2 separate regions of the Homo sapiens genome follow, and region 2 is linked to region 1. The links come from fine-mapping of genetic effects on gene expression. A gene starts in region 1. The other region holds a variant in brackets. All regions are shown on one strand. Distances are between the middles of the regions.

Evidence for each region.
Region 2: its variant is fine-mapped to the expression of HAGLROS in stomach (GTEx, PIP above 0.99).

What each region holds. Positions count from the first base shown.
Region 1 is chr2:176,176,520-176,179,434 of GRCh38, forward strand. It overlaps HAGLROS (HAGLR opposite strand lncRNA), which reads left to right and starts at 1,647. Exons shown (of 2, transcript NR_110457.1): 1 at 1,647-1,734; 2 at 1,906-2,490. HAGLR (HOXD antisense growth-associated long non-coding RNA) reads right to left here. Exons shown (of 3, transcript NR_033979.2): 2 at 813-975; 3 at 1-173. RefSeq lists an enhancer at 1,044-1,838.
Region 2 is chr2:176,987,316-176,990,230 of GRCh38, forward strand. LOC107985965 (a long non-coding RNA gene) reads right to left here. Exons shown (of 2, transcript XR_001739799.1): 2 at 2,070-2,915. Among named protein-coding and RNA genes, the nearest start is that of MIR4444-1, 220 kb to the right of the region's middle. The variant C/T (reference allele first, on the strand shown) is at 1,314.

The sequences.
Region 1 (2,915 bases):
GAAGCTTGTTTATACCTTCAGTATTCAAGGGACAGTCACAGGCCTGTTTTGACCTTTTCCTGAGAATTAGCTGAAACTTCCCTCTGAAGTCAAGTAGTGAATCTGTTATAGGTCTAAGGAAGGTCCTCTTCATCTGGGAGTTCTTGGCATTACTTTGGTCCTTCTTTCAGAAACTGAAAGAAAAGAATAGGAAGAACAGAAGTTTGTGAGTAGGCAGGAAGGGACATGGATGACCCCAGTCTTCACAGGACTATGGCCTGATCACTTCGAGGCACTGCAACTTCCCAGAGTATATATGTAGGGCTTGGGTTGAGTGGCCCTGTTCCGACACTTTGGGCACAGGGAGCTGAGACTGGGCTGTCACTAGCCAAGCCCTTACCATCTTTGAGGGCTGGTTCTTAGATCTCTCTTGCAGAAGGCCTGGATAGAAAGGAGAAAGATTGGGTATATTGGGAGGCTGAGACAGGAGAATCGTTTGTACCTGGGAGGCAAGGTTGCAGTGAGCTGAGATCACACCATTGCACTCCAGCCTGGGCATCAAGAGTGAAACTCTATCTCAAAAAAAAAAAAAAAAAAAAAAAAAGATTGGGTACATAAGTCCTCTGCACTTTCTGCACTGGTGATGCTGGAGAGGAAGGACGGTGAATGATAAGAATCATCACAGAGGATGAAATCTTAGTTCTCATTGTTCCCTTCTTTTCTACTCCAGCTACAAATGCCCTTATCTTTGGAGTCCAAGGTTGGGAACAAATGGATTTAAGTACCTGGCCTAAAGCCTATTCCTAAAAACTTCCCTCAGGTTTCACACCTACCTTGGCAAGTTGGAAAGTGCAAAGACAATATAAGGGCCCATTTTCAGGCCAGGTCCAGCATGAAACAGAGTGAACAAAATTAGTTCCACACATTAGGGAAGAGCCAAGTCAGACGAATATCCAATCATTTGCAGTAGTAGAGGCAGGTGAAGGGTCCCCAGATCTGTAAGGCAGGAGTTACTGCATGAGTCTTTCTGTCCTAGATCTTGGGCAAAATGTCCTGATTGGTTCCTATAGCTAGTCTGGATTATTTTAAGGAAAGAATACTACCTGGAGAAATCATAAAAGCTGGGTTTTAACATTAGTAAGGGCCAGAAGAATTTAAATCCTAATTTAAACCAAAATTCATGGAGAGCTCTGGTACAGGCAGTGTTTTTACCTGGGAAGCAGGGCTCAAAACCTGGCCAGGAGGTCTTGTTGGGCCAGGAATGTCCGTGGTTGGTGAGGAGGCTGGGAGAAGGCCTTTTTGATGGCTCCATTGTTCACAGCGCTGCCCTACAAATACCATATCCGTCCCCACCTCCTCTGCAAGGGTCGAGCGGAAGAGTAGGTCTGGTGAGCTGAGCTCTAGGGAGCTGGTACCATCTTCCCTCAATCCCCCTCGGTTACCCCTTGGGGCAGCAACGACGCCATCCCAGCCCCTTCCAGAGAACACACAAAGGAAGCCCCACCCGTCCTTAGACCTGAGGACACGCTCGGGAGCGGGCTGACGTGGACCCCGTTTCAGGGCGCCCCGGGCCCCTGCGGGGAACAATAGCCGCCGCCTCCTGGGCGGTCTGGCGGGCGCGCGGCACAAACGTCCGCGCCGCCACGTGATGCGCGCGCTCGTTCCGCGCTCTCCGCGCCTCAGCGAGCGGCCAGGCTGCGGGCGGGGTGGGCTGGCGCTCCTGATCCACCTGGAACACTTTTGCAAAGACAGACGGTGAGTTAATCACCCTACCGGCTGGCGGCCGCGTCCCCTCTCGCCCGCGAGGAGGACTGGAGAAGGGGCTGGGGTGGAGGTTTTCTCTGTGTGTGTCTAGGGTTGGGGGCAGGAGAGGTTAGTTCTATTAAGAGTTCATCAATCACCCGGTGTGCACTTTTCGCTCGACAGCGGTTCCTCCTACTTCAGAGCAAGTCTGGGCCAGCTGGGATCCGACCAGAAATCGCAAGCGGAGGAGACGCAGTAGCGCAGGCTGAGCGCTAACTGAAGGCGCGACCTGAGCCCGGCGCCTGCTGGGGAGCTGCGCAGCCAGGACAGCGGTCGGCAGCACAGGGCCTGGGCGCAGGGCCCGCCGTCACCACCTCACGTCGGAAGCCAGCACTGCTGCCCGCCAGCCCTGCCGCCTGCCCTCGGACTTCCCAGGGCGCCCAGGGTCCTCCCAACGCGCCTGCACCCACACCCGCCCCTGAGCCACAGTGACCTTGCATTCCCCGCCCCCTGCCACACCTCCTGCGTGCCCGAGTGTCACCCTTAAATACCGCTCTACACCCAGAGAGGGACGAATACACCTCTGAAGACAGGGCAAGACTAATTTCAATGGGTCAGAAGGTTCTTGCAGGCACTGTTTTATTTAAGAGTGCCTATTTACTGGCAGGAGTATTTGTGTGGGAGGAAGTAGGCTAAGACTGCTGTTGAACTTGAAGCTAAACTTGAATGCCATTTAAAATAACAATAAAAATATACTTAAAACACCAATCACAATGATATGACTCACCTCTTTCCAGTGTGGAGGAAACACTCCAGTATTTTTACCTCCGTTCTTTCCGGTGTATTTTAAGAACACCCTAAAGGGATAGACAGTAAGTGTCTGAGGGTAGTCACTAGCATTAGAGCTGTTTACAGCAGGAGGGTTTGGTGGAGTTAGTGGTGAAGCATTTTTATAACCCTTCTGGAGTGGTCATGCTGTTCTCTTTGTAAATCCTAACAAGGTTCCAGCCTAGTTCCCCTTTTACCCTTTTTTGCTGCGGGACTTCAGCTGAGATGTTTCTGAAGTTAGTAAATGTGTTGCCTCAGGCCACAGAAAATAGTCCCTGAAGGAAAGAAAGCCTCAGCTTTGCCCCCTCTTCCTTCAGCCTTCTCTCCCTTCATCCTCTTGGGTGGAAAATTAACTTGCTTTGGAA
Region 2 (2,915 bases), 810 kb after region 1:
ACCCTTACTATGTACCAGATATTTTCTAGTGAGTAGAGAAAAAGCATTGAAAAAGTGGATGAAATACCTGTCCTCATGAGCCTTACACTGTCAACCTCAGAACATGGTTGGGAAACAATACTGGATATACAGTCATATATTATGTGGCCAAGCACCTGTGAACTCAAAGAACCTGACAGATTTCCTCACCCTACGCTAGCCTCCTTCTGTCCTTGAAACCAAACATGGCATCAAATTCTGAGTAACAACCTAAGAGACAAGTGGGCAGGCAGGGAATGGGAACACCTTTTATTAAAAACATTAACTCTTTCTTTTTGGAAACTTAAAAATATCTTCCCAGTTATAAGAAAAATAAATTAGAATATTCCTGTTTTGAAGAGTTACATTTGGCAATCAGTTGTGACAATTTAATGAGGTTTTAGACAGACAGATGGATGACAGAGCTTAAAACAGTGCCTGACATACAAGATTTCAATAAATGTAATCAATAAGGAGGAGAATGCTAACGATACATTCAGTCACCTGATGACATCTTATCATATTCACTCCCTCAATGAAATAGAAGCAGAAATGGTATAGGCATATTCCTATGCTATTTTATGAGTTCCTCCAGGTGCTATGACATTCCCACGAGTGAGCTGCATTTTCTTGGCCATGTAGTTTCTCCCCCTTGGACCAGCATTGCAGCCAGTGCTTAGCCAGGGCACCCTTCTCTCTTCTGCATCCCCTGATGGTCAGTCAGTTTCAGGACTTTTGATGTGATTCTCAAGATGAATCTTGGAAGCCACAGAGCGCCCGAATCAGGTGAGCCAGCTCACAGACACCAGAGTTCAAAGAAAAAATGCTCTGTCCAGAGACAGTCCTAGTTCTTTCTTGAAGTGATGCTCATCAATGGTCATAAGGTGCCATAGTGACCAGAGATTCTTAATCCACCCAAGCCTTGAGGGTGGAAGGAAAGGGAAGGCCTTACTATTACACACCTTGCCCAGAGATACACTGTGCTTCCATCTCATTTACAGTACATTGCCGATTACAGAAATGGTCATTATCTTCATTTATAAGCACCTAACCATAATGTATAATAATCAGGGTAAGGAAAGTTGTATTTTCCCAATACAGTTTGTGGAGACCAAAGCAACTCCATCTTGGATGCTCATCTTCCATGTTGGCTTCTGATTAAATCCAGCTCTGGGAAGGCCTCTACAATTTCCAGTTTATCTATTGCTCCTTGTGTAAGAACAGATACTTACTGTAAATCCTGCCCTTAAGCCAAACAGTCTTGATGTTATCGCACTTCAATTGTCCTATGCATC[C/T]TTTCTGAATCACCCTTTCCCTATACCATATAAGCCCTGCGTCTGAGGGGTAATGGTGTAGGGATCCACCATCTTGTCTCACTGCCACCTGAGATAGAGACATGGCTTCTGTTTGCCAAGTCCCTATTGAATGCTTATTTCTAAGAGACTGGATATGTTAGCTTTTATCTTTGGCCTCTCAGCTTCCTTGGCCTTGGGGAGGGAGGGGGGTAAGTTTGTTTAGGCCTGCCCACTGCAAAACATAGTCACATACAGATTTGATAGTAAACGCACACTGTTCATGTACGCCTAGACTCCCAGAGGAGTCATAATCGCCCATACACTACAAGCTCTTCTAGCCTAAAGCCCTGATTTTTCTAGAAAGATGGTCAGTCTCCATCTAAAGGTATTCCCCTGTTGCATTTTTTCAAAGTAATGCATACTTTCCCTTCTTATCCCTCATCACAGTCAATTATGTATGCAGGTGATGACTTCTGCCTCCTCCCCACCTACTATAAGCTCCCTGAAGGCCCTTTGTCCATTGGTACATGAGGACATAGCCCAGGACCAGGCACATAGTAGTCACTCAAAGAATAATTTTGGAGTGACAGAATGAATAAATGAAATGGTTTTGATTCACCAGAGTCAAGGGACCAGTTATATATTTGCTTGTTTTCACAGGGCCGCCCCCACATGTCACTAAAAACAGGTCCTTATTATCTCTCCTTTAGACCTTCTGCTGTGTTAACACCGTTAATGCAGACACCGACACTCAGATTAATGAAAGGAAGCAATTTATTGAACTGATATTTGGTGTAGATGTCATTAGCTGCGCTCCTTTGGAGCAACTGCATCAGATTAGACACAGTCTCTCCCTAAGAGCATGTAGAAAATCATTTAACTGCTTTTTCCCAGCTGTTTATGTGATGCCAACCCCCTATGAATTGTTGAATTGGTTCTGAGGCAACTGTGAACCTTCTATGATTGCTCTTCATTGATGCTGTTTTTGTCTCTTCTGAGAAATATATACTATAATAAATCATGCTGTTGCAGTTTTATTTTTTGTTGTTATTGTCTCCTTTCCTTCCATCTGCATTCAAGATATTAGAAAAGTTCCAATAATGAGACAAGGTCAATAGAGCTCCAAATAACTTGTCAACACGGTGACACCTGAAAGGTGATCTTGGAAACAGAATAAGGGCCTGGTGGGTTTGAGTGGTTTTACAAGTCTATGAGGAAATTAGGAACTTTTACAGATACTTGGAGTTGGAAAAGTCAAAGATATCCATTAGGCAACAAGGCAAGTTCTGAGAGAGCTCATACATATCCATTACCTTCCCAAGTTTCACCAATAAATGAGCAACAAATTAGCAGATGGTCTATAAGGCAGATGGCCCAGTTCCCTTCTAGAGCCAGTGTCACTTTTCCTAGGTTTTCATTCTCAGCTCCATTGATAAGACAGCTATTGACCCAACACCCTGAAACCCCCCACCCATTCTGAAATTCATTCCCTCCATTTCTTAGTGATCTTCCACTTCAATCCCATACCGCAGCCTGACTGACGAGAAGTCTTACAGACACCGCTGACCATGCTACTAGGCGACCTATTCCTTTATAACACTT